Linked DNA regions of Homo sapiens: regions 1 and 2 are each reported to be linked to region 3. The links are microRNA targets in miRTarBase. Many come from high-throughput screens and were not tested one by one. Region 3 holds a microRNA gene; each other region holds the end of a gene's coding sequence.
What was found. Region 3 holds the annotated microRNA hsa-miR-488-3p (UUGAAAGGCUAUUUCUUGGUC, at 6,509-6,529, shown strand). A microRNA usually pairs through its seed, bases 2 to 8, with sites in the 3' UTR of a target mRNA and lowers its output. Matches are read on the target gene's strand: a 7mer-m8 pairs with bases 2 to 8, a 7mer-A1 pairs with bases 2 to 7 and ends in A, and an 8mer does both.

Region 1 (11,123 bases), not on the chromosome of region 3:
TGGGTAGATCACTTAAGCCCAGGAGTTCAAGACCAGCCTGGGCCACATGGCAAAACCTCATCTCTATAAAAAATACAAAAATTAGCTGAGTGTGGTGACGCATGGCTGTAGTCCCAGGTACTGGGCAGGCTAGGGTACAATCAATTGAGCCTGGGAGGTTGAGGCTGCAGCAAGCTAGGATCACACCATTGCACTCTAGCCTAGGCTATGGTATAAAACCCTGTCTCCAAAATAAAATAAATACACACACACACACACACACACGAACACACAAGCAAGAACAGGCGTGGTGGCTCATGCCTGTAATCCCAGCACTTTGGGAGGCCGAGGAGGGGGGATCACCTGAGGTCAGGAGTTTGAGACCAGCTGACCAACATGGAGAAACCCCGTCTCTACTAAAAATACAAAATTAGCCGGGTGTGGTGGCACATGCCTGTAATCCCAGCTACTGAGGAGGCTGAGACAGGAGAATCTCTTGAACCCGGAAGGCGGAGGTTGCAGTGAGCAGAGATCATGCCATTGCACTCCAGCCTGGGCAACAAGAGTGAAACTCCATCTCAAAAAAAAAAAAAAAAAAAAAAACAAAAAAAACGGATATCTGAGAAATACCTCTAACGTGATAATGTGATAATGACAAAGACTAAAAGAAAAAAGCAATTTTGAGGAAATCCATTATTCGAAAGAAGAAAACACCAAGAAATCATCATTAATATCCTCAGAGATACAAGATGCTCCAACTGTAAACAAAAGCAGAATCTCATAAAGGAACCCAGCAAACAAAAATATCCTTGGAAGTTAAAAATATGATAGGGCCAGGCGCAGTGGTTCATGTCTGTAATCCTAACACTTTTGGAGACTGAGGCAGGAGGATCACTTGAGGTCAGGAATTCAGGACCAGGACCAGCCTGGGCAATATAGTCAGATCCTGTCTCTAAAAAAATGGTGTGTGTGTGTGTGTGTGTGTTTTGAGACGGACTCTCACTGTGTCGCCAGGCTGGAGTGCAGTGGCGCGATCTCAGCTCACTGCAACCTCCGCCTCCTGGGTTCAAGTGATTCTCATGCCTCAGCCTGAGTAGCTGGGATTACAGGCATGTGCTACCATACCCAGCTAATTTTTATATTTTTAGTAGAGACGGGGTTTCACCATGTTGGCCAGGCTGGTCTCGAACCCCTGACCTCATAATCCACCCGCCTCGGCCTCCCAAAGTGCTGGGATTACAGGAGTGAGCCACTGCAACTGGCCAAAAGTTTGTTTTTTTGGTTGTTTGTTTTGAGATGGAGTCTCGCTCTGTCGCCCAGGCTGGAGTGCAGTGGTGCGATTTCAGCTCAACTGCAAGCCCGCCTCCCGGGTTCACATCATTCTCCTGCCTCAGCCTCCCCAGTAGCTGGGACTACAGGTGTCTGCCAGCACACCTGGCTAATTTTTTGTATTTTTAGTAGAGATGGGGTTTCACCATGTTAGCCAGGATGGTCTCGATCTCCTGACCTTGTGATCCTCCCGCCTCGGCCTCCCAAAGTGCTGGGATTACAGGCGTGAGCCATCACGCCCAGCCAATTTTTTTTTTTTTTTTTAATGATAGAAGAGGCTGGGCATGGTGGCTTATGCCTATAATCCCAGTACTTTGGGAGGTGGAGGTGGGTGGATCACTTGAGGTCAGGAGTTCAAGATCAGCCTAGCAAACAGGGTGAAACCACATCTCTACTAAAAATACAAAAAATTAGCCAGCGTAGTGGTGGGTCCCCATAGTCCCAGCTACTCGGGAGTCCAAGGCAGGAGAATTGCTTGAACCTGGGAGTTGGAGGTTGCAGTGAGCTGAGATCACACCACTGCACTCCAGCCTGGGTGACCGAGTGACAGTCTTTCTAAAAAAAAAACCAAAAAAAAAGATGGAAGAAATGTAAGACACAATGTTTTAGAAGTCAGAAGAAAAAGTTCGCCAGGCATGGTAGCTCATGCCTGTAATCTTAGCACTTTGGGAAGGCAAAGTGGGTGTATCGCTTGAGCTCAGGATTTCAAAACCAGCCTGGGCAACTTAGCAAAACCCTGTCTCTACAAAAAAATACAAAAAAAATTAGCCAGTTGTGACGGTGTGCACCTGTAACCCAGCTACTCAGGAGGCTGAGGCAGGATGATCAACTGAACCAGGAAGGCAGAGGTTGCAGTGAGCAGAGATTGTGCCCCTGAACTCCAGCCTGGATGACAGAATGAGACCCTGTCACACAGAAAATAAAAATAAAAAGTGATAAAGTTGTATAAATCTCCTACAAAGTACCACAAAAAGGCAAAACATTAAAAAAAAAACAAACAAACAGAAAACATAAGAAAATTAAAGAACCAGTCTATGAGGCCTACAGTCAAAACAGTAGTAATTCTAGAAAGTATTAACAGAGAAGACTGGGATGGAGGAAAGAGGGAAATTAACAAACAAACAAAAAATCAAAAAATTTCACAGGACTTAATGGTATGAGTTGCCAGAATGAAATGGCCCCAGCAAAACGGATAAAAATGGACCTAAACCAAAGCTATTCTTAGGAAATTTCAGAACAAATGGGGCCCCCCCAAAAATTCTATAAGCTTCTAGAGAAAAATATCAGGTTTTATACAAAGGATCTTGAATCAGAATGGCATATGCTTCTCAACAGCAATTCTGGAATCTACAAGACAATATAACAATGCCTTCAAAATCCTTAAGATAATCATTTCCTAGAATTCTATACCCAGCCAAACTATCAATCCATTGGCTAGGTGGAACAGACATTTTCAAATATGCAAGATCAAAATAAATTATTTCCCATGCACCCTTTTCCAGGAAGCACCTGGAGAATATGCTCCACCAAATGACGGAATAAACAAAAAGAGAAAGACATAGGATACAAAAAACAGAAAACCAAAAGAAGAGACAAAAAGAATCCACAGCATGACCCTATGTACTATGCCAGGAACATACTAGTTTTCCAGTCAGAAGGGTTCAGGATAGACTCTTCAGAAGTTTGAAATTGATAAAATATTTATATATATATATTATATATATTTATATTATATATATTTTAAATATATATTATATATTAAATATATATTACATATTTAATGTATATTTAATATTTTAAATATATATTTCTAATATATATTTATATGTTTTATATATATATATTTATTTATTTTTTTTTTTTTGAGACGGAATCTCACTGTTGCCCAGGCTGGAGTGCAGTGGCACGATCTCAGCTCACTGCAACCTCCACCTCCTGAGTTCAAGTGATTCTCCTGCCTCAGTCTCCCAAGTGGCTGGAATTACAGGCATGCGCCACCACACCCAGCTAATTTTTGTATTTTTAGTAGAGATGGGGTTTTGCCATATTGGCCAGGAGGATCTCCTGACCTCAAGTTGTCTACCCACCTCAGCCTCTCAAAGCAGTAGGATGACAGGTGTGAGCCACCGCGCCCAGCCAATATTAATAATTTTTAATCATTTTGTATTTATCTTAATTTTTTAATTTTTTTTTTAAATAGAGACGAGGTCTCACTATGTTGCCCAGGCTGGTCTTGAACTCCTGGGCTCAAGCAATCCTCCCGCCTTGGCCTTCCAAAGTGCTGGGCATACAGGCATTAGCCACCATGCCGGGCCTTGTCTGAGCATCTTGAGAGACTTAGACGACTGAGAGAAGGTCAAATCAGTCTTAGGTAGATAAGCAAACAAAACAAATATGACAGATGATTAATTCCAGGGAAAACAAGTTGTTAGGAAAGGAAAAGTAATCAGGTTACTATATAGCTAAACTCTCCTTAGCATTTACATAGTCAGGATAACGTACAATGAAACTACCAAATAAGTATATTGAGGACAGGTGTGGTAGCTCACATCTGTAATCCCAGCACTTGGGAAGCCAAGGAGGGAGGATCACTTGAGCCCAGCCAGGCATTTGAGACTAGCTTGGGTAACATGGCAAGACTCCATCTCTACAAAAAATTACAAAATTAGCCAGGTGCCATAATGCATGCCTCCCAGCTACTGGGGAGGCTGAGGCGGGAGGATCCCTTGGGCCCAGGAATTTCAGGCAGTAGTGAGCCGAGATCATGCCACTGCACTCCATCCTGGGTGACAGAGCAAGACTCTGTCTCAAAAAAAAAAAAAGTAAAGAAAACATATATATATATATATAGAGAGAGAGAGAGAGAGAGAGAGAGAGAGAGAGAGAGAAAGAGAGAGAGAGAGAAACCTGGAAACCTGGCCAGGCACAGTGGCTCACACCTGTAATTCCAGCACTTTGGGAGGCCAAGGTGGGCAGATCACCTGAGGTCAGGAGTTCGAGACCAGCCTGGCCAACATGGTGAAACCCCGCCTCTACTAAAAATACAAAAATTAGCTGGACGTGGTGGTACATGTCTGCAATCCCAGCTACTCAGGAGGCTGAGGCAGGAGAATGGCTTGAACCTGGGAAGTGGAGGTTGCAGTGAGCCGAGATCGCGCCATTGCACTCCCACCTGGGCGACAGAGCAAGACTCCGTCTCAAAAAAAACATAAAAACTCAGTTGAAGCTGGTTGAGGTGGTCCATGCCTGTAGTCGCAGCTACCCAGGAGGCTGAGGCAGAAGGATCACTTGAGCCCAGGAATTTAAGACCAGCATAGCAAGACTCTTGTCTCTAAAAACAAAATTTTTTGATTAACAAAAGAAAAACTCAGTTGAAAGTGGTTGCCTTTAGAGAAGGAGAAATGGGGGTGGGATCAGGAGAATGCTGCCTTTCATAGAACTGACTTTTTAAACTCGTAACTTCTACGAATTGAGGTAAACTCCTTACTTTTTTAAAAAAATAAGTAAAAAAAAGTAAAGTTGTAAAAGAAAAGCTCCATCAACTATCCATCCCCCAAAAACTTTTTTATGCCTATTTAATCTACATTCTTCAAAATTTTTTTAACCTGCCTAGCTTTAATGGTATTATTTACATTAACCAACTGAAAAACTGTTTTCAGAACCCCATTTTTAAAAGCATTTAAAAGAATTCTGCACCAACATGTGGAGACACATATAATCCAACCCCTGTATACTTCATTAGGGCTTATTTGTTTAAACAGTTTCATTGGCATTCATACTTGGAACAACAGAGGGTTATTATAAAAAAAAAAAAACATAGTTGTGTTTATCATGCCAGGACTGGGTAACTTTATTCAAGACTTTGACAAAATGATCCCCAAAGTAATATAAATGTAGACACTTTAAAAAGTCCAGATGTGAAATTTCAAGAAAACTTTGAATTCAGTCCAAAGTCAGTATTAAGTCAAAAGTTGAACCAATTCTACAAATCATAAATACTATTTTCCTTCTTAAGTTCATATATTTTCTGAGATAGATTACCAACTTAGTTTTCTTTGATATTGGTATTTGGAATAATTTTAACATGATTTAACATCTTTAAGTTCTAAATCTATACTTATCCTGAATATCTTATTATAGTTAAAAATATAAATCCAGAACTGACAACTCTTCCTTACAGAAGAATTCCAATAATAAATGTAGAAGGATTGAGAGAAATAGAAAATCACCATTAGAACACCACAGTAGTAACTGCCACAAGCAAGATCTGCCAATGGATAGTAAAATGAGCAAAAGTTTAAGCAGAAACGGGACATTTGCATAGTCTCCGGGTATCTCCAGCAAATATTCAATAATTACAAGGAAAACACAGTAAGTTTACAGTAGCGAATCCTAGCAGACACCACCTTAGCATAGTGATCAAGGTTAACAACACCAGAAATACATTACAACATCAGGTATCCCCTGTTATGATACACTGTCACAGACTGGAAGACAGGACGTAGGCATGATAGCTAAATGCAAGGCTGGGTCTTGGAACAGTAAAAGGACATTAGTGAAAAGACTAAAATCTCTACTTTTTAAACTTTCTACTTTAGTTAGTATTATATCAAGGTTAATTTCTTAATTTTGACAAATGTTCTATTGTTACGTAAGATGTTAACATAAGGGCAAGGTGGGTGCAGAGTATACAAGAACTCTACTACTTTTACAACTCTTCTGTAAGTCTAAAATTATCTCAAAAGCTTAAAAAATAACTGTTAGAAAACAAACATGTATGTGCATAACATGTGTACATATATATAAATCAAGACTTCATGGAAATTGGCATCTTGGGCACTCAGTCAGTAAAAGAATAGTGTTCTCTTCTGAATTATTCATTGTCTTACTGGTAGCTTAGCTTTAAGGTCCTCCCCCTTCTAGACTTTTAATTTCAAGTATAAATTTCTAATTTTCATAGAAAAGCCTTTTTTAAACATTCCTATATTAGGCCAAAAATAAAATCCTAGAATAAAATTATCACCATATTATCTTATAAAATCACTCATCCCAATCATAAGACCCAGCCAGTATTTTTACTACATTTCCTCTCCTCATCTGTTTGTATTGGTTTGGTTTGGTTTATGAGTGGGGACAGCTAATAGATTTAGTATTTACTCATAGGCCTGACAGTCTAGGGGAAAAAAAATTATCACTTGGGTATCTTATGAAGAAACAGCTATTTTTCCAAGAACCAATATTGTGTACTCACCTCAGACATAAAAAGTTATTTACCTAAGTCTCTTCTATCTAACAGCATAGAGTTACCCAAACAAGGCCAATAAAGACCCTTTCAATATCCTTTTCTTAAATTTGGCTCTAAAATGACTGTTAATAATGGTAATAAATGTCTTTTTATTAAACAGACAATTTTATCTTATGCAATTTAGGGAAATAAACATAAAATCTACCTTTAAATGAAGAAAATAATAATTTCCCACTCTAACTATGGCTGATTCATTCCCTGAGCATGAATCCCATTTTACCCTCATTGTTTTTAACTATAAACTGAGCTGAAATCTGCTCACAGGTGAAACTAGTATTTTAGATGGAGAATGATATTACCAAGTAATCATATTTATTACTTTTTGTAGTAATTATTTCTACTCACTGTGGCATTTAATGTTTCATCTGTAACTCTCTATCACAATGCCCTCTATAGAAGCAGCAATAGTGAAAACATAACTACACTTTGGGGAAAAAAAAAAAAAACAGGAAAAAACAGATAACTTTTAAGTGGATCTTTATCCAAATACAATAAAAAAGCAAAAAAGAAAAGTGTCCGTAAACATTTTCATTTTATGTCAATGCCATTTCCAAATTTACCTTCCACTACTACCATGAACAGCAGAAGTGGTAAAAAAAAAAAAAAAAAAAAAAGAAGAAAAAAACTCTAACCTAATGATCTATAGAAAAAGGGAGACAATTTACTCACTACACATTGCAGTATATTCAAGTGGTGAAAAGATATAAATTTTTTCAGAACTGCCATACTATCTGGCTGTCAATATAGTCTCTTGAATAATTATATTAAACATATTACTACAAAATGTACCAAGAAGTAGAGAATAATACTATATTTGTAAACTGCAAATAACAAAACAAAACAGAAGTCCAAGAAGGCTAAAGTCTAAGCTATAATTACACATGAAGTATATGTTGAAAGCAGTCACAATGTACAAAAATGTGACAAGATATCCAGATGTTTAAAAAAACACATCCTGTTTGTCTCAGATTATATCCAGTTTCATCTGGTAGGTTTCTGATAAGCCTGTTGTGTGAAGTGTGTTTCCCTCCTGCTGGTAAGAAGCAGCTTGTAGATATCCATAAATTTTTTAAGGAGTGAGTCTACTTGGCAATATTGGTAACTCCATAGTTTCCTATTACATTCATTCGTCTGAAAACTGAAAACAACTCATGACTAAAATATTCTTCCATTCCTTTGCCAGTTTTTCAAGTATAAAATCAAAGGAAAGCTGGAATGTATTGCTTCTTGTCATCAACAGGCATTTCAAAAAGAGGGTAATTAACCAAATCAAGTGTTCTTTGGTCAAGTTAGTAACAGGCTTCCACTTTGTTCTAAATCCTTTCATAATCCTTTTTTTTCTAATTTTTCCAGTATGGCCTGAATCTTACAAACAGCCTCTTTTCTGGCCTGCCGTACAGAGTCCTGGCCCCCAGTTTCAACTGAATCCAGTTCCAAAAGTTCCTTGGTTAGCATTTCTTCCAGAAGCCAGTATGCTTTGTCTGTCTTTTTTCCTACAAATTCTTCTACTTCTTGTTCAAGATACTGGACCTTCTCCAGCACATGTATGATTTTTTTAATACTCGGAGGAGTACTTTCATCTGAAGGTACACATTCTTCAGGAAGACTGCTACTTTGATCTTGATTGTTGGGATGGTCACTGGTGGCATTACCATACAGCTGAGGCTCAGCACTATACTGGACTTGGGAATCCAAAAGATCTGAATCATCATTGTTCACTGTCCCCGAGGATTCGTACTGATGGACACTGCAAGGAAAGTTGTGCCGGTTCATGCTTTGATCTGATTGGCTATAGGGGTATGAAGAATCCTTGGAGTGGGAGAGCAAAAAGAGGAAAAGAGCTGTTTTAATGGGAATGCATCAACATCAAATTTGTTAGCCCACATCTTTCACTTGACCAGAAAGGTACATGAAAAGATTCCCTAACAATAAAATTGGACCCCTCTCCTTAATCATTTGCAAAAAAACACAGTCCTAAGAAGATAAAAGGGAGTGCCCTGTCAGACAAAAGGCACAGAATTTTTGAGTTATAATGGCTGGAACCTGCCCTGTGGCAGGTCCATCACCATGAGCACCTCATAGTCCATCCTGTGACCTAATTAATAAGAATTAGTTTTTCCCCTAAAAGGTTAAAAACCTCAAGCAAGGTCTTGAAAAGGAACACAGCCACAAGTGATAATGTTCAAGTCTGTGGTTTAAATACAAGCTCATGCTACAGATATTTCACATTGGTTTTGTCTTCTGTTCATAGATTATTTGAAGTAGTAAAATGCATCTTTGCATTTAACGTTTAGAAGAATTACAACAAACAGAAAATGTGTATCTTTCTGTCTTTTAACAAAAACGATGTGAATCTAAATCTTCTCTAAATATAAAGTCTATTAAAAAAAAGAAAAAGGAAACCGAGCTGAGGTAAAGCTATAGATAAGTAGTCACCAACTTTTTGTAATTAGTCCCCATTTAACACAAACCAGTACAGAAACTATATAAACCATGTTATGTTCTCCTAATTACACACACATTAAAGGAACAACATTTAGGTCTCCTACCTTGGGCTGCTGGACTGGGGGTGAAGGGGGTGACTGGGGAGAGCCACTGCTAGGCCATGGTGAAGTACTTTCAGTCATGTAGAGATTGCCGGGTGGTGCTGAGGGCGCTGATGAAGGCCAGGGATAACGGCCACCCATTCCATAAGCACCAGGAGAAGCCCACGCATCTTCTTGTGGTCGTACAGTCGGTCCTGATTGTGGAACACTACGATTACCATCTCCATAAGGATAATGGGGCAGGGTCATTCCAGGGTTCTAGATTGAGAAGAAGAAATATACCAGTCATTGTGAAAAACTTATAATAAAAATATTCTGCTACAGGCAGATTCTGAGATGCTTCCTCTCTTCTTAACAGAGTATACATTAGCTGCTACCGGACTAAACTGTAGTAAATCTAATTAATCAGCTGCAGTAATTTCTCCAAGCCTCAAAAAGTTGGTTCCAAAGATACCAGGGGTAGATTTAATGACAATAAAACTCAGAAGGAATAAGGCCTAAAAATTCAATGGATGAAACCCAAGTCTGTCCCATAGATACTATAAACAAACGGACCCATATGCTATAAGGAAGCACAAATAAAGACATGTTAGAACTCCTCTTGAAGTGAACAGAGAAATAAACATAGTTATTCACAGAATATTAAAAAAACATGAACCTGGCCAGGCGCGGTGGCTCACGCCTGTAATCCCAGCACTTTGGGAGGCTGAGATGGGCGGATCACGAGGTCAGGAGATCGAGACCATCCTGGCTAACAAGGTGAAACCCCATCTCTACTAAAAATACAAAAAAAATTAGCTGGGCGCGGTGGCGGGCGCTTGTAGTCCCAGCTACTCGGGAGGCTGAGGCCGGAGAATGGCATGAACCCAGGAGGTGGAGCTTGCAGTGAGCCTAGACCGTGCCACTGCACTCCAGCCTGGGCGACAGAGCGAGACTCCGTCTCAAAAAAAAAAAAAAAAAAAAGAACCTAACAGGGTGCTAAAAAAGGCTAAGATTTGCCTGGCACGGTGGCTCATGCCTGTAATCCCAGCACTTTGGGAGGCCGAGGGGGGCAGATCACGAGGTCAGGAGATCAAGACCATCCTGGCCAACATGGTGAAACCCCATCTCTACTAAAAATACAAAAATGAGCTGGGCGTGATGGCGCGTGCTTGTAATCCCAGCTACTTGGGAGGCTGAGGCAGAAGAATTGCTTGAACCCAGGAGGTAGAGGTTGCAGTGAGCCAAGATCACGCCACAAAAAAAAAAAAAAGGCTAAGATAGGGAAACTTTCAAGCAGCAACTCTCTAAAGATTACTTTCAGTATAAAAATTTATGATTATGACCTTCAGCCAAAGTCCATTTACTGCAATAGCTGCCACAAATAAGAAAGGCATCAATATAAAAGCCTTCCCAATCTAGAAGTGTCTTATTAAATCAGCACTAGTATGAACAGATGCTCTTCCACTGTTTACAAGAGGCAGAGACTTTGAATTCATTTTTTTCCCAATAGAAAACAACTCACCTGTGAAGGCGGATATCCTGGAACCTGCCCCCTAAGAGGGGGTGCTTCAGTCTGACAGTCCTGCTGGGGATAGATCCAACGAGAGACTGGAGTTGGGCTGTTGCCAGATGAACGGTAAGTACTTGGAACTTCTGTGGAGTAACTGGTCTGAGTATAACCAGGTGCATAATAAGCCCCTGAGTATGAGGCAGTATTTGCCCCAGGGCCTGGGGGGTATGTTGGACCATACGCTCCATTTGTATAAGAATTCAAACTCTGAAAAAAACCAAGTTGAGTGAAAAAAAGATGAATTAGTAGAAGAGCTGAAATGCCCTGACTTAATGCCTAAACTTGAAAACTTTGAGAAGATGTTAATCACTAATGCAGGCCAGGCACAGTGGCTCATGCCTGTAATCCCAGCACTTTGGGAGCCCAAGGTGGGAGAATCATTTGAGGTCAGGAGTTTGAGACCAGCCTGGAC
Region 2 (11,123 bases), not on the chromosome of region 3:
CAGTGGCATCAAATGTTAGTTACCCTCTCATAGTTGTCACTGAGGAACAACCTTCACTTTTGATGTATTAATTGTGCTAAGTGAAAAAAAGTAAAATATGTACAATGTTTCTATGTATTCCAAAGTGAAATAAAAATAAATAGAAATTATCCATGAGTTTTGAAAGATTTTTGCTCACCACTACTGGAACATAATAGAGATTTTACTATACTCTGCCTAGGAAGTTGACTCCTGACATTGATAGTGAAGTTCCAGAAAGTGCTGAGGAACTTTGCTAAATTCAAGAGCTGGGAATTTTGTTTGAAATAAATATCTCAATATTTAACTGCTGTATTAATTAGAAAAATTGTATTGCAAGAAACAGAAACCCAAATCAAATTAGTTAAAGCCAAAAAGGACATACTGAGATACTAGAATAACTTGGGTAACTTACAAAATTGAAGGAACTAAAGAAAAATAACTGAAAAGTACTAAGGATGTCAGGAACTAGAACCAAAGACAACACAACTCTCTCCAATCAGTCCCCATAGCTTCTACTGTTTTCTCAGCATCCATCTCATTTTCCCGGGTTTCTCCTTGTGCCAGGAACATGACCACCAGAAGCTCTGGGGTCAAATACAAGAGGCAAGAGTTTTGGCTCTCCACATCCTTAGAAGTTTCTGTGTAAAGATTACAATTGACCCAGACTGGGTGACTTGCCCAGCTTGTGGCAAATGGGTGAGGTTAAGTGCATTGGTTGACAATCTCCAGTAGGGGTTGGGAGAAACCAGTTTCTAAAAGGAAGAGTGAAGCTTTTACATGGACAAGGGCAGAAGTCAAGGTATGCAGAAACAATCAACAGAAGTGCATTACTCCAAACATATCCAGCAATGATTTTAATACCACTTTCACCAGTTTTGTCACCACAAAGTGACAGGACAACCCAGCTCCTAACTTATACAATGTCATCTTTATGACTATTCTAAAATGCTTTGAACTTTTTCATCTTAAAACACCAAAGGATCGCTATGACAGCGCAGGTGCTTTTTCTCACGTGCATCCTTCTACGAAATGCTTAGACATGAATTCTGAGGCTTACTTTTCACAAATTAAAAGATTTTTTCATGGAAACACAAAAGATACAAAAAGTAGAAAGATCCATATGAAGCACCTTCCTCCACAGTTTCTAAGCTTCTAAAATCAATGTTTCCCAGTTCATTAACAAGCTCGTACATAATTATTAGAGTAACACCATTAAGGTTAGCACATACAATGACTCCCAAAGAAAAAACATTGTCTATTTATAAGCATTGCTGTGAATGGGTGGAACGTCTCAGCAATACAGTCACAAGCAGCAGTCCCGGTGTTCTCACTCAGATATTCCACGTAGCACTTCATAGTATGCTTTAAGTGAGGGAATGTGACCTATAGATACATCTACACGAGAAGGATTCCCATAAGGCATAAACTGTTCAATAAACAATCATAAAAATATATTCATTCTTCCCTATCTAGAAATCTATGTCTTTATTTAAAAATACGTGATGATTCATGCTTAAGGACGTGTTGTTGGACAGTTGGTTACAGTCTTTTATCTAGTCAAAAGATTCTTATCTGCCAGAAATGTGATAAGTCCACTTATAACTAGTCTCTCAAAACATCCTAGATATTTTTCTCTGTATGCATAGTTAATCATACAAATTAATCTAACCTAATGCCATCTTGTTACCCTAAAATGTTTAATGATAATGGCTTATCATCTTTCATCCCCATAAATTTTCTCCTTGCTTTCAGTGAGCAGCAACTTCACTCCCATATACGCACTTGTTGTGTATTCCTTCTCCTGCCAAATTCACACAGTCACCTCCTCTTCCAGGATAAGACGTTTACTGCTGATAATCACAGCCACAGGGGAAACAAAGAACTGCCATGCTCAAATGAGGGTAAGGTGAGGCAGGTCCATTAATTTACAAAGGGACTGATTACAAACATGCAAGTGGGGTGCAGGGAAACCACAGGTGATGCTACATGAACGCAGGGCTGAAGACAGTAGAGCTGTTACTACCCCTAGGCCAAAGGGACAGAGAGATAGTGGGCACCAAAACCAAAGGAGGGGAATCTACAGGCAGGTGCTGGCCCAGCAACAGTTTTTTAGATGAACTAGGTACGGAAATTGAGAATAAGCATTTATAAACTTCAACAGTAATCCCAAAGAATAATTGTGTCTAATAAAAAATGAGGTTTATCTAATAATAAAAATGGGGTTGGATTTTCTATGTCTTTTTTTTTTTTTCCAAGATGGAGTCTTGCTCTGTTACCCATGCTAGAGTGCAGTGGCATTATCTCGGCTCACTGCAACCTCTGCCTCCCGGGTTCAATTCTCCTGCCTCAGCCTCCTGAATAACTGGGATTACAGGTGTCCGCCACCACCCCCAGCTAATTTATTTATTTATTTTTAATTGTATTTCATTTTTCTAGTAATTTCTTTGAATTCTATCTATTTACAGAAGTGCCAGCTATTGATAAATTGGAAATAAGGAAAACAAGCTGGGCCTTAGCCACAGATATTGTAAGAAGCTTTTCTGTAGAGAAGGCCTTCTTGGGCAAAACAGGCAGCCCAAGGATACCCAGTAGGAGGATAGTCAAGGAAATTGATACTCTATCCTTCCTCTCTTCACTTCCTCCAGTCTCTTGTCGAAGTTCTCCATTTGGCTATACCCACTGAGGTCCATGTGGGTCAGTCTCTGGAGGCAAAAAGCAGGATACAGAAGGGTGGAGAGTGGATCCCCATCCTGTACAGTTGAAAAGTCTATGTCCCCAACATTGCAAATGCACGAAGTCCCATCACCACAGAGTGATGTCATTTAGTCACGGAGTAATGTCTCCCTGTGCCACTTACCAACTTACTAACACTGAACTCCAAATTCACTCTAAATACATGCTCTGTCATAATGAACAGAATTCCTTTAGCACCCATCCTTTACAGTGAGCATGATATTGAGCTGTCTCAGTAGAGGGCGCTGGAGGGATACTGCAACAGGAAAGGGCTCTCCTGCTGTTTGCAGCTGCTGCAAGAGGTCAGCAGTGTGGGTGGGAGGGCTTTTGTCATGCTCTTCCCTGGCTGCATCCCTGAGCATGGGGTTCCTTTGCAACTTCTCAGCTGCAGCCTGGCCTAGCATTAAAAATAGAACCCATTACACAGGTTTGTTGTAAGTAAGTGTTTTTTGTTTTTTGTTTTTTTTTTTGAGACGGAGTCTTGCTTTGTCACCCAGGCTGGAGTGCAGTGGCGCGATCTCGGCTCACTGCAAGCTCCGCCTCCCTGATTAACACCATTCTCCTGCCTCAGCCTCCCGAGTAGCTGGGACTACAGGTGTGTGTAAGTACTAATTTTTAAAGGGCAGATATAATCAGTATATTAACATGCAGTTCTCACAGGGGTAACTAAAAACAACTTTTAATTTTATTCCTCACTGTCTGCTTGGGAGTGAAGGACTGGCTAGCCCTTCTCCTACCCCTGGATGAAACTTGGGGTGGCACAATGGCTGTTCTCACACAGGACTTTGGAGGGAATATAAAATCCTACAATTACTTCAAGACACAAACATAGTCTCAAGTCAGTTATTGAAAATGTCCAATCCAATGCATCAATCAGTAATTCAATTTGTATTCAAAGGTAAGACTTCTGGGAAGGAATCCTTCTCTTTTATTTCCTTACTCCCCACTGTTCACTAATTGGCTTTTGGCCCTTCCAGGGTTAAGTGCTCAGATGAAGGAAAGAAAAGGGGATAAAAAAGTTCATACTTGACAGATACTGTCAAAATGTTGCTTAATGCTGTCTGTCTGACAGATGCTTAAGACTAACCTTTCTTTTATAGACACTTTTGGGATTCTTCAGAGGGGTTCCTGCCAAGTGATGTATTCTAGTTCTCCAATTGCCCCACATGACTTAGTCCTTGGTTTTCCAGAAGTTCACTCAGTACTGACCTTCTTCTATTTTCAAGATAGTACCCCTCTTACACAAGATTTTAAATTGTTCCAAACCAGAACTTACACACCACTCGGCTCACACTAGACCATGGGAATATTCGTCTACCTTTTATCCCAACAAACTCTACGACTGAAGGTCAAGCTGGGGTAGCAACAACTCTCCTCACTTCACCTGCAAAAGCACTTGCCAGACCTCCTCTGAGCCTCTCTACAGACACCACCCGCAGTGTCTGTGAGGTCTGCTAATGGAGCTTGCCACAAAATACAGACTGAAACAAGTTTTATAAACTTCCTCAGCTTTTTGAGAGAGGGAAGAATTTCCCATTTGAATTCTTCCAAGGAGATTTCCCCCTGTACTCATAACTTTTCATCTTTATTTTTCTTTCCTATGACCCCTAAGCAAACATCCTGTTGGTGACCATAAGCTTGGCAATAAATTATCCACGTGTTGCCTCACTGGGGTTTTACTACCAGTTGGTCTATACTGTTGTGGGAATAACATGCACAGTCACTGCAGAAGGAATTAAGCCATTGTATAAACTTTAAAACATGCAAGCCCACCCATTAAAATTGTTCCTTGTTATTCTTACCGTATATATCCAAAGTAAATGAAGTTGAGATTTGATGTCATCAGTAGCCCATTTGATTATCTACAAGAATCAGATAACAAACTGGTATTATGGGGGAGAGATATAAATAGGAAATCAGTGATGTGCTCAAACTGTAAATCTAGCCCCGCCATGGCTTATTTCTATACCAGTTGCTTAGCATGGCCAACCCGAAAGTCAACGATTTTAATAGTCCCTGAATAGTATTATGATGATCTCTGGTTACTTAGTAGGGCCCTACCTAGCAGACTGTTTCTGCTTTACCACATTTGGATGTCAGATCCAACTTTTCTTGCACTGACTGGCTGTAATAACCCATATGGGGCAGGGGGAGAAATAAGTGGTTTTTTAAATTTACTTTTGCCAGTATGTGTTAATAGTACTTAGTTTCATAATTCTGGATGTGGCTCCAGTAATCAGAAGAGCTTTAAACAGAAAGATCAAAGTCCATAGAAAAGAGTTTTGTTTCCGTTTCCTTAGAATATAGATCATCCTGTGAAAAACATAGGATTTCTTCAAGGTAAATAAATAGTACTCACAGGAGGCTAAGGCAGAGAAACTATAATGACAAGTAGTTCAAGTGTGTAAAGAAAAATACTGGTTATTAGGAAAGACTGCTCAGATGGGCCAGTATAATTAAAATAGTTAAAGTGACAAGGGATTGATCTGAAACAAGTCATGAGAATCCCTACAAAAAGCAGTTCCCTAAACTGGCTGCATAAGAACCATCTGGAGTAATAAGCTTACGAATTAAACTGATACAAGCCTGTCTGTACCTGAGACAGCCGATATCCAGTCTGGGCTTCTTTTCAGTAAGAGAATTCTGATTTTATTGCTGGTAATGTATCCAGCTAAAAGCAATGTTTCTCAGCTTCTCCTGAAGATTGGTATGGCCATGTGACTAATTCTGGTCATTGAATACAAGTGGAGATTATTGGCTATTACTTCTGAAAAGGCTCTTTAAAGAGGGAGGAAGAGCTGAGTTTGAACTTTTTGCCTTTCTACCCATTCCTCCTTCTATGTAGAATTTAGACCTTAAGGCTGAATCTGTAGCAACCATCTTAGAGCATGAAGCAATCTTGAAGGTGGGAGTCACAAGTTAAAGATGGCAGAGCTAATGGATTAAAGGAGTCTGGGTTCCCAGCCACCATGGGACTGCCATGCCAACCCTGCACTGCTCCTTCCACACTTGTTTTATAAGAAGGAAAGTAAACCTAACATAGATAATCCTGTTACTATACACCATCAAATCCTAAACACAGTGCTACTGGCATTTTCTTAGCCTTACCAGATTGCAACAGATGATTTTCATTTTCAGGCAAGTATAACTACCTCCACAATGCTACCCAGCTGTCAGTGATTACAGCATACCATTTGGGGAAATGCATGTCTTAGAATTAATGAAACAGGTATTTAGAGTCTTCAGTTTATCCAGCTGCCTTAGCTTGCCTGAAATCTTACTAGTAAACTCACTGATTCTGGGACCATCCAGAAGCTGGAAATTCCCAATGTGGAAGAGAAATGGCCATGAGAGAATGCCTTGTGCATACCTGGCACAGAAAGGAAGCTAAGGAAAAGCAATCCAACACAGACATTGCCACCCACAGTTGTATGGAAGGCAAAGTATCAGTGAGAAAGAAGCTGTAGTAACATCAGTGTTGGAGAATCTTTATTTATTATAGGGTTAACCTCTTGTACCGTAATGGACCTTAAATGAGCACAGAAGTCTGGTCTCCAAAGTGAGACCTAAAGGAAGATGATGCCAACCAGAGCATGGAGGACAGACTGGAAGTTTTCCCCTGGCACAGGCCATCAGTAATCAGCTGTTGATATGCCTATGTTAATTGTCTGGTAAACTCGTGGTGCTGTTTTGGCTCTTCTCAACTAGTTCACTTTTTAAAAATTTAAGCACCTCATTAAAGAAACCCTTTTAGATGTGGTAAAGCGAAACAGTCTACTAGGTAGGGCCCTACTAAGTAACGAGAGATCATCATAATACTATTCAGAGACTATTAAAATCGTCGACTCTTGGGTTGGCCATGCTAAGCAACTGGTATAGAAATAAGCCATGGCGGGGTTAGATTTACAGTTTGAGCACATCACTGATTTCCTATTTATATCTCTCCCCCATAATACCAGATACATGGTAGTCACTCAACAGGACAAATATTAAATAACAAATGACACAATACATGGTTTCAAAAGGGTGTTTACTATTTGGCCAAACAATATTTTTTAATTGTCAGTCATAAAGTGAAATACATACTAAAATATATATTAAATATTCACCAAATCTGCATTGCTGCTACATGAAAACATTTTTTGGTCTGTTGGAAAATGTAATTCCTGAGATCATTGTTGGGCTTTGTCAATCATTTTCCTCACCATCAAATCACCTTAAGTGACTTGGGAGTGTGAATCTAGGATGTTCAATTTTAGACCAATTTTCTCTATCTTCTAAATGAGTAAACAGGCTCTGTCTTTTATAAAAGGTAGAAAAATAACCATGGTGTGCTAATTTTTTTCAAGGTATACCATATGGAAAAGTATAGGCTGAACACAAAGGAAGTCTTTTCTGAATGGCTCTCGATCACACATAAGGAACATATGTTTTCCAGTTAATCTGTCCTTGATGTACAGCAGTCCAGCTGTTGTTTTGCATTTATTAAAATATTCTCTGCTAAATAGTTATGTTTGTCTTTAAAAGTAAATTGCATAAAATTACATCCAATTTCTTTCTCTAAACCAACATATTCTTCACCTTCACAAAGCAAACACATGGTGCACTGAAACCGAGGTGTTACCAGCTTTACATACTGTTCTGCCATTTGTGAGGGGTGCAACCACAACATAAGTCAGAAAAAAAGCTATCCAGCTTTTCGTGGAATCTGGTGAAGTTTATACTTAGCGATAAGCCTCTAAGCCTGAACTTAGCAGGGCTAGCAAAACTTTATTTATTTCCTAACTCCTATTATTTTAGAATGGTTTTCAAAATAATACTGCAAGTTCCTAATTGAAATACAAAACAGAACAAAAAGCTGTGAGAAATCTTTTTTTTCTTTGGCTCCTTAAAGACTTGGAATAATTTATATTAGTGTTGCATACATTTTACCTTCTACATTTTGATGTACTTGCTCTTGAAAGCACTAGAACAAATTAATTGAAATAAAACCTCTCTGAAACCATTTGAATCTTTGATCCTACCATAGAGTTTTAAAGGCTTTCAGGATATAACTTGTATTTTCCCCTGAGTCTGAGTGTCTACATGATTATAGAATGCATGTCTCTTGCTTCATGGTGATATCTAATATGCATGGAATACTGAAAAATAGGTATTTCCCAAAGGCTCCTATATACCAGGCATCTCAGACTGACACTGAAAACCTTTTGAAGCATTTTTAACAACAAATAATGGACTATTTCACAGACTGATGCCAATAATTAGTTTTCTGGACCTACAGTTGAAAGCAAAATTATCTTTTTAACTAAATAGGATCAGCTTCAAAATCCTTTTTGGAGATGTTTTTATCTATTAAATGCCTTTATTAACAACACCATCTTCCATTTTCTATTACTCCAATTCGATTTCTCCTGCATACAAGGTAATGAGTAGAATGGCTGTGAATCCAGTTAACATTCCAGCATTCTGAATCATGAAGAAGGTGAAATCGGTTTTTCTTCCAGTTACCTTTTCTCTCAGCATATCATTCATCTCTGGAAACTAGAAGACAGATATATTGTTAGATAACTGTTGCCATCTTGTGGCAAACCACAAAACAGTCACTTAGAGGCATACCTTGGAGACAGTGTGGGTTTGGTTCCAGACCAGTGTGATAAAGCAAACATCTCAATAAAGCAAGTTACATGAATTCCCAGGTTTCCCAGTGCATATAATAGATATATTTGCATTATACTGTAGACTATTAAGTGTGCAATAGCATAATATCTAAAAAGGCAATGTATATACCATAATTTAAAAAAATACTTTATTGCTAAAAAATGCTACCAATCATTCGAGCTTTGGGTGAGTTGTAATCTTTTTGCTGGTGGAGTCTTGATTCCATCTTGATGGCTGCTGACTGATTAGAGTAGTGGTTGCTAAAGATGGGAGTGGCTGTGGAAATTTCTTAAAATAAGACAACAATGACATTTGCAACATCAATTTATTTCTTTCATGAAAGATTTCTCTGTAGTGTGCAATGCTGTTTGACAGCATTTTACCCACAGTAGAAATTATTTCCAAAGTGGAGGCAATCCTCTCAAACTCTGTCCCTGCTTTATGAACTATGTTTATAGAATATTCTAAATCCTTTGTTGTCATTTCAGCAATGTTCACCAGGAATAGATTCTGTCTCAAGAAATCACTGTTTGTTCCTCCGTAAGAAGCAACCCCTCATTCATTCTAGTTTAATCACGAGATTGCAGCAATTCAGTCCCATCTTCAGTCTCCACTTCTCATTCTAGTTATCTTGCCATTTCCACTACCTCTGCAGTTACTTCCTTCCCTGAAGTCTTGAACACCTCAAAGTCATCCATGAGGGTTGAAATCAGCTTCTTTCCAATTTCAATTAATGTGGATATTTTGACTCCTTCCATAAATCACAAATGTTCTTCATATCATCTAGAAGGATAAGTCCTTTCTAGAAAGTTTTCAACTTACTTTGCCCAGATGCATCAGAGGAATCACTATCTACAGCAACTAGAGACTTACAAATTATTCTTAAATGATATGATTTGTAAGTCAAAACTACTCCATGGACTGATCCATGGACTGCGGAATGTATGTTGTGTTAGCAAGCACAAAAACTTTCATCTCCTTGTACATCTCCATAAGAGCTCTTAGGTGATTTGATGCACTGTCAATGAGCAGTAATGTTTGAAAGGAATTTCTTTTATTTTTCTGAGCAGTGGGTCCTAACAGTGGGTTTAAAATACTCACTAAACCATGCTGTAAACAGATGTGTTATCATCCAGGCTGTGTTGTTCTATTTCTAGAGCACAGAGTGGATTCAACATAATTCCTAAGGGCCCTAGGATTTGGGGAATGGTAAATGATCACTGACCTCAACTTAAAGTTACCAGCTGCATTAGTCCCTAGTAAGACAGTCAGCCTATCCTTTGAAGATTTGAAACCAGGCATTGACTTCTCTCTAGTATGGAAAGTCCTGGATGGCATGTTCTTCTAACAGAAGGCTGTTTCAGCTACACTTAAAATCTATTAGTTTAGTGTAGTCACCTTCATCAGTGATCTTAGTTAGATCTTCTGGATAACTTTCTGCAGCTTCCCATCAGCACTTGCTGCTTCACCTGACACTTTTATGTCATACAGATGGCTTCTTTCCTTAAACCTAATGAATACACCTCTGCTAATGTCCAGTTTTTCTTCTGCAGCTTCTTTACTTCTGTAAGCCATCATAGAATTGAAGAGAGTTATTCCTTGCTCTGAAATAGGCTGTTGCTTAACGGAATGTTGTAGCTGGTTTGATCTTTCTATCCATACCACGTAAATTTTATTCATGTCAGCAATAAGGCTGTTTTGCTTTCTTATTATTTGTGTGTTCATTGGAGTAGCCCTTTTAATTTCCTTCATCAATCCTTTCTTTGCAGTCACAACTGGGCTATCTGGCAAACAAAGTCTAGCTTTTGGCCTGCCTTGGGTTTCAACATGCCCTCCTCACTAAGCCTAATCATTTCAGGCCTTTGATTTAATATGATAGATGTGCAGCTCTTCCTTTCACTTGAACACTTAGAGGCCACTGTAGGATTATTAATTGGTGTAATTTCAACATTGTTGGGTGTCAAGGAATAGGGAGGCCCAAGGAGAGGGAGATGGAAGGATGGCTGATCAGGGGTGCAGGGAGAAAACACACACAACATTTGTCAATTAAGTTCACCATTTTATACGAATGTGGTTCATGGCGTCCCAAAACATAATAGTAACATCATAGATCACTGATCACAAATCACTATAACAGATATTATAATAATAATGAAAAGGTTTGAAATCGTTTAAAAATTAACAAAATGTGACAGAGACAGGAAATAAGCCCATGCTATTCAAAAAATGGCACTGACAGATTTGCTTGAGGCAGGGTTGCCAAAAACTTTCAATGTGCAAAAAACCTAGCATTTACAAAGTGCATCAAAGCAATGTGCAATAAAACAAGGTGCTCCTGTAATAGAATGCTGGGAGGGGTGGTATGATCATTTACTTTGGATGTTTAAAGGTTTTAGTACTGATAGCTTAATAGGAATATCTAGTTCTTTCAGGCATCAACAAGAGTAAAAGTACTGAAGTAGTATTTTTCTCCAACTGAATCAATCAGTGGGATGGAATTTACCTCATTTTATGTTCTCTTTCTCCTTTTCCATTACCTGCTCTCTATGCTTCACCCAACCCATTCTTTCATGACCTCAAGTTTACCCAGCAAAATCTTCACATCTACCATCACCTGTACCAGAACTTGTATTTCTCTAATTTTTCAGTGGACTAAATCCTTCACGTTTTACCTTATATCTTGCTAAAACACTTTTGCTAGCTAATCCTAG
Region 3 (11,123 bases):
TTTTTAAGAAAAATGAACATAAAATATTCTTAATTGAGTGTCTAGGCTCCACACATGGTTAAGAGAATTTTGGATGAACTTACCAAAATGGCCTGTGAGAAGAGCAGTGAAGGAAGATCTGGGACTAGAGCCAGTTCTGCACTGTCTAGTTCTGTAGTTTCTCTGAGCCTTGGTTTTTTCATCAGAAAAGGAAGGGGCTGAACCTAGAGATAGATATGCAATGGGTCCCTAAGTTGAAAGAAAGTACACATTTCTCATCTAAATTCAGCTCAGTTGAAGGCCTAATGGTATCTCTCAGGCATGTAGTGACACAAATAGTCCTGTTTAAACACAGATAACTTGAAATGTGAGTATCGTCTTTTTACTACCAACTAATCTTGGATTTGGATGCTTAGTAGGTGCTTACTAAAGGTCGTTTGTTTATGATAGCTCCTCCTTTGACCCACTGTCAGCTAGATGTGCATTTTGAATATTTGAAATTTGAGTATTTGAATAGTTACTCTTTTTTTCTTCCAGAACTGACAATGGGTCTGGATGTATTCATCCATACTCTCCTATTCTGTCCTCTTATGTTGTGCAAGATAGATGCCAGGGTGTAGATGTCTCTCCAGTGAGCAATGCTCATTCTGGGTGACTGCAGGCTAGTGCTTAAGAATATAGGCTGTGAAATAAGAGTTGTGGTCTCATTCCAGTCCCACTCCTCATTTGCTGTGTGACGTTGGGCAAGTTATTTAACCTCTGCGCCTCATCTTTTTCAAATGTAAAATGGGGAATTGAGTTAAAAGTGAGGAACCTTTTGAACAAGTATCTGGTACATGGTAAAAGCATGATAATGGACAGCTAATCTTGTTTTATTACTGCATAATATAGGGAATGAGTCTATGCCTCAGACCTCATCATAACCCTGTTGTGATCATCTGAAAGGAGAATTAGAGAGGAACAGTGGAAGGAGCTCCTAAAAAACCCTACATGAGCAAAAAACATAGTGTTTAAGCCATTCCTTAGAGATTGATGCTTACGCTACTCTTACAGCTCCTTAGGGAATAAAATTACCTCTCGTTTTCACTAGCTTAATTCAATGTCTGACAACTTCTCTCAGTTGGGAAGTTATTCCTTCTGTGTGGCTTAATTACCTATTGTTGCAGTTTCAATTTGGGGTGAAGGAAAAGATAGCACTGACTCTGAGATACAGGTTCTGCTAAAAAAAAATGTCAGGTTGGACACAAATACTCGCTGTCAATGAGTGGTACAGGGCTTAGTCATGCACTGTGGAGGCACTGTGTCTTCTAGGCAGTGTTCTGGGGGGTCCCAGGAGCTCTGTGTGTGTGTCTGCAGGGCTGCCAGGATGGATGGGAGTGGAGGTGGCAGTTAGCAAGGACCTAGAATACTTGGCTTTGGACTCATACCCATAATGGAACCTGAGCATGTTTATTCTTTCTCTATACTTGCATAAGAGCTTGCACCAGGAGAAAGGGTTCTGCAAAAAAAGAAATAATTGAAAACCAGGAGGTCAGCATACATCTGTCCCCAACAAGCCACATGATATAGGCTGTCACTTGGCAGCTGACTCTGTTGCCTCGTGTCTCTGCTCCTCTGTGCTGCCTGCTTGAAAGTGGCAGTGTGTGTGTGTGTGTGTGTGTGTGTGTGTGTGTGTGTGTTCCTTTGCTCACAGCGATGGTGAGAGGGGGAGGATAAATAGGAAGATTTTCAGGGAAAGAAATTTTATAAATCCAAGGTATAATTATTATGAGACTGGAAAAGCCCCCTTTAATGTATTTGGAGGCATACTCTTGACCTAGCTTTATGTGGGTGGGCCCTCTGGGAATTAGTAGCGGATTTTTATCTCTAGCTTATTTGATAGGGAGGTATGATTGAAGCCTAAGGTTGAGAGAAGAACCATTTGGCACATGCTGGCCTAATGAAATAGGTTTGGAAAGATATTGACCAAAATAAAGGGAGTGAATAGAGATTGTGCACGGGAAGATTTATGCCCACCGAGTGCCATGCAGCACCAAGCTTAAAGGCTGTCCCTCTAAATGCTGCCCCGGTGATGTCAAGGCCATGTGTTCAGTCTCACTGAGTTCTGCATCCTCACCTCTGGCAGTCGACAGAGTGGTGTCCTGATTTGTAAGGAATGACCTTCGAGGTGTTGGCCTTTGAGCACCAGAAGGTAACTCCTCCACCAGCCTGACTCCAGGACTTGGGTTTCAATCCCTTCCCCTGAGCTTTAGTAAGAAGACGGAACATCACTCAGGACTGTGTGGTTAAGGGAAAGCTGTGACCCAAAAGTCATGTTCAGATGATGAGATTCCTCCCCACACTTGGTGGTAAATTCCTGATGGATGTAAATTTCTATTCAGATTTGTCAATGGTTTTTCCTGCTGGGCCAGTTATTCAGATGGAGACATTTAAGGTTATGCTGAGAACAGCTTTGATTGTGTGAGATATATTATGCTAGGCACTTTACATAGTTAGCTAACCTAATTCTTACAACCACCCTGGGTGGTTAAGTGGTGTCTTCTCCATTATACAGATGACGTATCCGAGGTTTAGAATTTATAGGACCCACTGATAATTGGTGGAACCACTGTTAGAATCTATGATTGATGTTTAGACGTGAGACAGGAAGAAACCAGATGTCACCCCATATTGCTAAAAAAAATAAAGTCCTGAAACCAGCGTTATGTGTGGCAGATTTAACTTAATACATAAAAGCTCTCCCCTGTTTTTGCAGCTGAAATCACGCACACACACACACACACACACACACACACACACAGACTTGTTTCTTCAAATTGTTTGCTAAGCCCGAAGCAACTGGATCACTTGAAATGATGCACTGGTCATCCCAGCTCCATTTTTCTCTCACCCTAAATACCAGTCACAGTAGAATTTCCCTTTGCTGCTGAATGATGCTTGCTGTAAATGCTTAATACAGCTGAATGAATGAATGCATAAATAAGTGATGAATGGTGGTAGCAGAAGGAGCAGTGACTCTTTGTGGGAAGAGCCTACCCATCTTCCCACATCCATCTGTGGTCCTCTCTTCCTAGGGTGGCATGATCGCTCTGCTGCTGTCCATCTTGTGCCTGGTGATGATCCTGTATACTCGCCGGCGCTGGTGCAAACGCCGCCGGGTCCCGCAGCCCCAGAAGAGTGCCAGTGCTGAGGCAGCCAATGAGATTCACTACATTCCTTCTGTGCTGATCGGCGGGCACGGACGGGAGAGCCTGCGCAATGCCCGCGTGCAGGGCCACAACTCCAGTGGCACCCTGAGCATCCGGGAGACACCTATCCTGGACGGCTATGAGTATGACATCACTGATCTGCGCCACCATCTGCAGAGGGAGTGCATGAACGGAGGGGAGGACTTTGCCAGCCAGGTCACGCGCACCCTCGACTCCCTGCAGGGCTGCAATGAAAAGTCGGGGATGGACCTCACACCAGGTGGGGATGGGAGAAAGGCAAGGGGCTGTTTGGTCCTTCATCTCAAGGAGCTGGGGAGTGGGTAGGAACAGCTGTGTGACAACAGCTGGTTGTCCTACATAGTGTGATGTGGCAGTGCCCTTCCCTAGATAGGCAAGAATAACCTGTTTCCTGAGATGATGGGAGCTGTTTTCTAATCTAGAAAACCAGAAGAACCGTGTAAATTGGATCTTCTTTCACTTCCACCAGGCACTGGAAGCAACATACTTTAACGTTCAACAGAGGAGTGAGTTAGAGCCATTTTAGTATGTAATGAGCAACCCTCTGGGAAATGAGATAGCAAGAAAAATGAACATGTGTATATGACTTCTTGTATATTTTATACTTGCTTAGGCAATTTAATTCTCCATTGAAGCGGAGGGGACAGTGGTATCTGCTTTTTCCTATGACTCCTGAGAATTGGGCCTGGGGTGTTTTCTTTATGTTTATCTTGCTCATGCCTCTGTGCTCTCTACAAGGGATGCACTTCTTCAAAGAAAATGAAGGATTGCAATCATGGTATCAGACCCCAGATGCATTGTGTATCTATGGAGACACTGACTGGAAGAACTAATCCAGATGAACAAGATTAGGGTCAAAAACTGCAGAGAGAGAAAGACTGCACTCTTCCTTTACAGTAATCTGCCTATTTCTCTTTAAAACTTCTATGAATCAGCAAATCTCCATAGATAAACCCTTGACAGTGATCCTTCAAAGAACTGCCCAATTATCTTTGAGGAAGACATGTTTGATGCTGAATGTTGCTTACTATATATAGACTTTCAGTGGGGCTTGAAAAAGTGGAATCACATAGAGGTTTTTATTCTGCTTGTTCTCTACAAGACATTCTACATGAAGAGCCAATTTCTAATGAGATTTAAAGCCTGAAAATTCCTTGAGAATATGGGGGACATATCATCAACATCTCTTCATATTGACCATAACACCTGGTGTAGTGCTAAGCCCACAAAGTAGACATATGGTACTCAGGGGTTATTATCAACTCAAATGCCTTTAGGAGGCCAACAGATAACACAGATATTTGAAGCAGAGAAGAGGTCAGACAATACAGAATGGCGCAGACTGTGATGAAAGAGAAGGGGCATGTTCTGCCTGAATGCACACAAATTCAAATTCTTTTAAAACTCTGTGCTGACCAAAAATAAAGAAATCTGCAGTCTGTATTTAGCCAAAGGGTTACAAGTGCTGACCTTATCAATACAGAATATTATAATACATAATATAATAATAGTTGAATTGGATTTTCAGTTGTAGTTCCCTGACTTCACTGCTTCTCCCATAACTTTGCAGTCCCTCAGAAATAAAAAAGGAGTATTTCAGTTTCTTGCAGCCAGTCTCTCAGTTTGCTGGTGTCTTATTTCAATTCTGTGAGACCTTATCTTCTTGGTTTATGCAGATTTCCTTCTTCTCCCTTTCTTTTGGTCTTTTCTCTTAAAGTTTTTGCCTCGTCTTTTCCTTATACAGGAAGTGACAATGCCAAGCTGTCACTGATGAACAAGTATAAAGATAATATTATAGCCACTAGCCCTGTGGACTCCAACCACCAGCAAGCCACCCTTCTCTCTCACACCTCCAGCAGCCAGAGAAAGCGGATCAACAACAAAGCAAGAGGTATGCATGTCTGACATTAGGGCTCGTGGGTGGATTCCTTCATATTGGTAGAGGCAGGGCCATTAATATCTTCTACCCATTCTCTCATGCGTGGCTGGAGAGGGTATGCCCTGGCACAGCCTTTCTGGAGGCCAGTTAAATGCTACTTACCAAAAAAATGTAAATGTGCAAACCTTTTGACCAAGTAATTTCACCAACAAGAGTCTATTCTTAGGAAATAATTGGACAAGTGTGCAAAGAAGTGTGTAAAAGGCCGTTCATCACAGCATTGTTTAAACAAGTGAAAAATTGGAAATAGCTTAAATGTCCATCAACAGGGAATTGGTTAACTACCTAGCACATCTGTCTGCTGTCCAGCACTTACCATGCAGCCATTTGAAACAATATAGATCTATATTTGTTAATATGGAAAGTTGCCCACCCATCTATTAAATGGGAAAAAAAATGAAGTTATAAAATAGAAGATACAGCATAATGTCATTTTTAAAGAGAGATTAAAAAACCTTTACCTGTTTCTGTGTCAGTAAAAGCCAGAGAGTATACACATGAAATGTTAGCAGAGTTTATCTCTGATTTAAAGGATTTAGAGGGCATTAGAATTGTTCCCTTTACATAGTTTTGTGCATTTCCTTTATTCTATTCTGTCTTTTTTGTATTAAATATATATAATTCTAGAGCCAGAAAAAACACAAAGATGTAATTTCCTATACCTCTTAGATAGTCTCATATTAACAGAATCATAACCTGTAATGAGGGAAATTTCCCTTTCTTCCTATTCCACCCACTTTCCCTGGAGGTCCTCTCTGGCAGATAGGTGCCAGAAATGGCCCTAGTCAGAGGGAAGTGGGTGGGGCAGGGTAGAGCTCCAGTGATTGCTGTCCCAATGGTCTACTTCTCCAACATATCCGTGTATGAGGAAGCCCCAACCCCCTTGGCTATTTCTCCCAGATTATCAGTCAGCTTACTTTCATTTTTGTTGATTTTCCCATTGAACTTGCCCAAAGGTTTGGTGTCATGAAACCAGAACTGAAAACGCTTTCTTGACCATGCTGCTTTCATTACAGCTGGTTCCGCCTTCTTGAACCCTGAAGGGGATTCTGGCACAGAGGCAGAAAACGACCCCCAGCTGACCTTTTACACGGATCCTTCAAGGAGCAGGAGGCGTAGTAGAGGTAGGAATGATAGAGGTGGCAGAAGGTGGTAAAGGATCTGGGAGTGAGGGAGGCGGGGGAAGGCGAAGAGGTGTTGGGTTGGGTTGTGGGCTCTATGGAACAAAACCAGTTTCTGCAAGAAGAATTTTTGGACCACAACTGGTGTTTCCTCCTAAGGAAGAAAGAAGAGCCTAGAGTGGAAAATTTCAGAGAATCATCTCTCCCAGATAATGGCACTCTCAAACAAGTTTCCAAATTGTTTGAAAGGCTATTTCTTGGTCAGATGACTCTCAATTTCTTCTGGAAGACTCAGGAGTCATATTTTGCTGTTCAGACAAACAAAGTTAATAAAGTGTGTTGTATGTGAAAAGATGGATACTATATGTACCCCTGCTTCCTCTACCACATTGGCCTTGGGTTTGAGCTAGGCAAGGATTGGGGGCAGTGTAGTTGAGGAATGATCTATGGCCTGAAAATCTGTGTAATTGTCTTTGACCTTTAAGCCCCTGCCTGGTAGAATCACAGGACCCCGAGCCTCCCAGTTCCTTCCTTTCCCCTGGCAGGGTTAAGGTGGCTAATCCATTCTCCTCCACGTGGACAGAGCTGTCCTTCCACGCAGCCACTGTGTGCCACTTCACTGTCATGATCAGTGGCTTCAACTGTGGCTATTCCGGCCACAGCTCCCACTGCCTCTGACTTCACTTGTATCACCACCACACCAGCGGAGTTCGGAGCACAAGCGCCGGTCAGCTTTACCAGTTATTTGCTGTGTGGTACTGGATAAGAACAACAAGTTCTCTGACCTTCAGTTTACTCACATGTCAAATGAGTTAACAATACCTTGTGCGTAGAACATAGAGCTTTATCAGGATTAAATTATATTAAAATGTGCCTTTTTGGAGATTGCTAAAGCACTATGAAATCCCTATTGTTGCTGTTAGAACTCTCCATCATGCAGCCCCATATTTATACAGTGCCCCATCTTAAAGAATTTTAGGCAGCGTCCCTGTAAGATACAGTAGAGGATATTTGAGTGGCATCTCCTTGTAATACATTCCATAACAATTTCCTCAACCAATAGTCAACCAGTGTCTCCTGAAAGACATATACATTTTTATTCTCTCGTACCTCCACTTGAATTCCCTTCATAACAGGTGTTCTTCCCAGAGATTTGAAGAAGCCCTTTTGATTATAAATTCCAGTTTCTATAGGCTTAACTACTATCAGTATAATAAAAGTTTTTCCATCATTTTTCTCAAGAGATCATTGTGGCTCTGGGTATTCTAATATTGAATGGCCAGGTTCTGTGAGGCGAGAATGTGGATTAGGGTCTCCCAATCTCCCTTGATACTTATTACAAATTTTAGACAGTGGATACCCAACCTAGGCCCAGCTAATCCAGGCCTAATCAAAGCAGGGTGTGTCCTGCTTTAATAAAGTCTTGTTTCAGAAAAATCCATGGTAATGAATTAGTTTCTCGACAGCATGAAACTGTTCCTTTTAAATACCAAGGTCTCCTAATGCATCAACTTTTTACGCTATTAACCAGACTGTAAGCTTCTTAGGGGTGGGGAATGCCTAATTTATTTTTCCAAAGTGCCTAGTGAAGGATTTTTCCTGTAACAGATGCTTGTAAGTGTTTGTTGAATTGGATTGGATATATCCATCAGTGCAGCAAAAACATTTTATAACCCACCTGCTGTGGGTCAGGTTTGTGATAGGTGGTAGAAACATGAAAATATGGCCCAGTGATAAGGCTTAATTTAATAATATAAATAAAGTGAAGAGAGTACTCAGAAGAGAGGACAGTTAATCCTACCTGAAAGCAATGGGAGGCAAAAAAGGAGAAAGTAATTAGAACTAGGTTTTATATATATGTATATATACACATACACACACACACACACACACACACACACACACACACACACACACACACACTGTACTGGGTTTCTCAAAAGAGGAGAAGAAGTCTAGGATAAGGGCATTTCAGTAAAGGAAAATGGCACATAAAAAGCCTTGAAGGGACAAAAGAACATGGTGTTTTAAAGGAAGTAAAAGTCGTTCAATATGGCAGCTGTCATCAAGTTATAAATATATACGCACACGAGATGGTAAGGATGAGGCTGGAAAATGGCTAACAAAGGACCATGCACATGCCATGTGACTGAGTTTCTGCTTGCCTCAGTGGGGTGTAAGGAACCATTGGAGGTTCTGAAACCAGGTAGAGATGCTGGATTATGGGTCGATGATGCAGAAAGACCATAGAGTCAGGAATATCCGTAGCAAGTCATTGAAATCACATGAGAGCAGTGGCAATTGCCTGTAAACAGTGATGATTCTATGTGATAAGAGCTCTAACAGCTCTTATCACACCTTATAGCACCAAGGGCTAGAACACCAAGGAATCAGTGAGAATCTGTTCTTGGAGGTTTCAGGGAAGTGTTTACAGGGAGATGTTGTTTGAGCTGAGACTTGAAGAGTAGGTGTATACCAGGCTGACAAGGTGACAAAATGGCCTTCTGTGGAGGAGGAAATAATCTGTGCAAAGTCACTGAGACATAAACTATGATGGTCTTGTCAGGGAGCAGTAAAATGTTTACTAGAATAGAGCTTAGGGTGCAGGTTTGTGGTTTTCTTAGGAAATAATGTTAGAAGATCAGCAGAAGCCAGAAAGTACATGAGCTTGATTCCAAGGGCCTTGGACCTGACAAAAGAGCAACATCCTGGTCTGCTCTGCTCCATGAAGGATCCTCCCAGGGACAACATGCAGGATAGGTGACAGCAGGGTGAGCTTGAGGCAGGGGAACAGGTGGATGGCTTCTGCTTCAGTTTAGATATAAGATGATATGGGTAGGGAGGGATGGAAAGAATGGAGGCCAGATAAGTTTTGGACACAAAATGAGAGAAACGCAAATCAAAACTACAATGAGATATCATCTAACCCCAGTTAAAATGGCTTTTATCCAAAGACAGGCAATCACAAACACTGGTGAGGATGTGGAGAAAAGGGAACCCTTGTACACTGCGGTGGGAATGTAAATTGGTACAACCACTATGAAGAACAGTCTGGAAGTCCCTCAGAAGACTAAAAATACAGCTGCCATATGACCCAGCAATCCCACTGCTGGGAACATACCCTAAAGAGACAAAGATTTAATGGCATTGGTGAGGGCAGGGTGGGGGTGTGGCTTGTAAGCAAGAGAAAAGAGTTGGATATAATGGAGTTTTTAAATTTGAGCAACCAAATGTGTGGCAGTGCCATTGGCTGGGCAATGGAAGTAGTTGGAGGAGCAGGGTTTGAGAGAAGGTGGTGAGAGGAGGTAGTGAGGTTTTGAGAGAAGGTGGATCTGCATCTGAGGCCTGGGCTGGGCTGGAAACCTGTAAGCGTAGGAAAATAGACTGTATTATGAAAGGATAGTAACATGCACAGAATATTTCCATCTATCAAGGACAGAGGACCCAGAGACTACCTTCTGCCCTCAAGTCTCTCCTTTCCAGCTACTGCCAACACATGCACCCAGAGGAAACTGCTCCCCTAAAGGACAAGTATATCCATAAACCAAAAACTCATCCCTGTGTTCCTGAGGACATCAGTTCCAAAGGCACCACTGGGCCCAAAGACTGAGTAGTGCATTGTTCCTGTGTCCTGAAACCTCACCTGGATCTGCATTTTTATCTGGCTCCACACCTTAGTAGTTTCCTGGGACTAGGCATGCTCTCCAGCCTCTCTAACCCTCTATTCCTCCAGGGGAGCTGCCTCCTAAGACTGGGGACACTAGTCAATGATGCGAGCCACATCAAACCCTGAGCACTGGAGCCTGACACACAATCATCACTTCATAAGTGTTAATTGCCACAAGGAGCGTCAACTCTTACAGATCTATTTTCCTTATCTGTAAAGTGGGTGGTTCCCATACAGACTCATAGGCTTATTGTAAGAAAGCAAATATTAAAAATAAAATAAGGTACGTAAAAAAACTCAGCACAGTGTCTGCCTTAATGGAAACCTTTTATTGCTATCAATAATAAGTATTAACACAGAGCAGAAGAAAATTCCAAAAGACCCACACATTCTGTCGTCTTGCTTTCTTACTTTCCCACATCTGTTCTGCTTCCATAAGCATAAGGCTCCCCTGCTTAATGGCATTTCGTCTTCTCCCCAACAGGAAAAAAAAAAGCCAAGAAACAAAAAATTAAAAAAAAATAACAATGGTACAAAAAAAATAAAGAAACAAAACACTCTTCCCTCCCTATCCCTATTTCCACCTCCCCAGGAGTGTTTCTTAATCCTCAGCAATGATTATTTCCTCCAATGATTCCAGGACTGTGGAGAGCATCCTGGTGTGACAATGTTGTCTGCTCATACAGAGCAGACATTCCTCATTTTCCTCATTCCAGGTCCCACAGAGTAAGAGTCACTTGGTAGGAGTCTTGCCCATAGAGTAAGCACAAGCTCTTCCAGCTCAGGAAGTTCCTCCTGGAGCAGCAGTGTGCACTATGGGGGTGGAGTTGCTCTGTGCAGAATGCCCTCTGTGAAGAGCGATGGGAGGTATAGTGTGGGATTAAAGCATCCCGCCCACCCTTGGCAAAAGCCTGGAGCTTAGTAAGGCGACTAGGGAAGAGAATGCCCCCTCTATGATTTCTCCTGTGAACTTGGCCCAGGAAGAGTGAAAATGGCCAACAGACTATTATTGACCTGGAGGGCCACCAGTTGGCCAAGTCCCCTCTGACTCCAACTGATGGCATGGTGTCTGTGAGGAAGAAGGTCACTGAGGTCATGCAGCCAGAGACAGTTCCCTCCATGGGCTAGTTTTGCCAACTGTCTCCCCTGTTTGCCAGGATGATTGGCAAAAAGCCAAGTTGGACTCTCAA

Region 1: the mRNA of BAG4 is a reported target of hsa-miR-488-3p. Seed matches in the 3' UTR shown: 7mer-A1 at 7,507-7,513.
Region 2: the mRNA of SLC39A8 is a reported target of hsa-miR-488-3p. Seed matches in the 3' UTR shown: 7mer-A1 at 8,036-8,042 and 7mer-A1 at 7,712-7,718.

The regions. Positions count from the first base shown.
Region 1 is chr8:38,207,307-38,218,429 of GRCh38, reverse strand. It overlaps BAG4 (BAG cochaperone 4), which reads right to left. Exons shown (of 5, transcript NM_004874.4): 3 at 10,664-10,918; 4 at 9,163-9,417; 5 at 5,129-8,422. The coding sequence ends at 7,937. Among named protein-coding and RNA genes, the nearest start is that of DDHD2, 19 kb to the left of the region's middle. RefSeq lists a silencer at 7,425-7,719.
Region 2 is chr4:102,254,899-102,266,021 of GRCh38, forward strand. It overlaps SLC39A8 (solute carrier family 39 member 8), which reads right to left. Exons shown (of 9, transcript NM_001135146.2): 9 at 6,768-8,295. The coding sequence ends at 8,146. Among named protein-coding and RNA genes, the nearest start is that of SLC39A8, 85 kb to the right of the region's middle.
Region 3 is chr1:177,024,780-177,035,902 of GRCh38, reverse strand. MIR488 (microRNA 488) reads left to right here and starts at 6,458; the gene lies at 6,458-6,540. It overlaps ASTN1 (astrotactin 1), which reads left to right. Exons shown (of 23, transcript NM_004319.3): 3 at 3,054-3,447; 4 at 4,951-5,097; 5 at 6,162-6,269.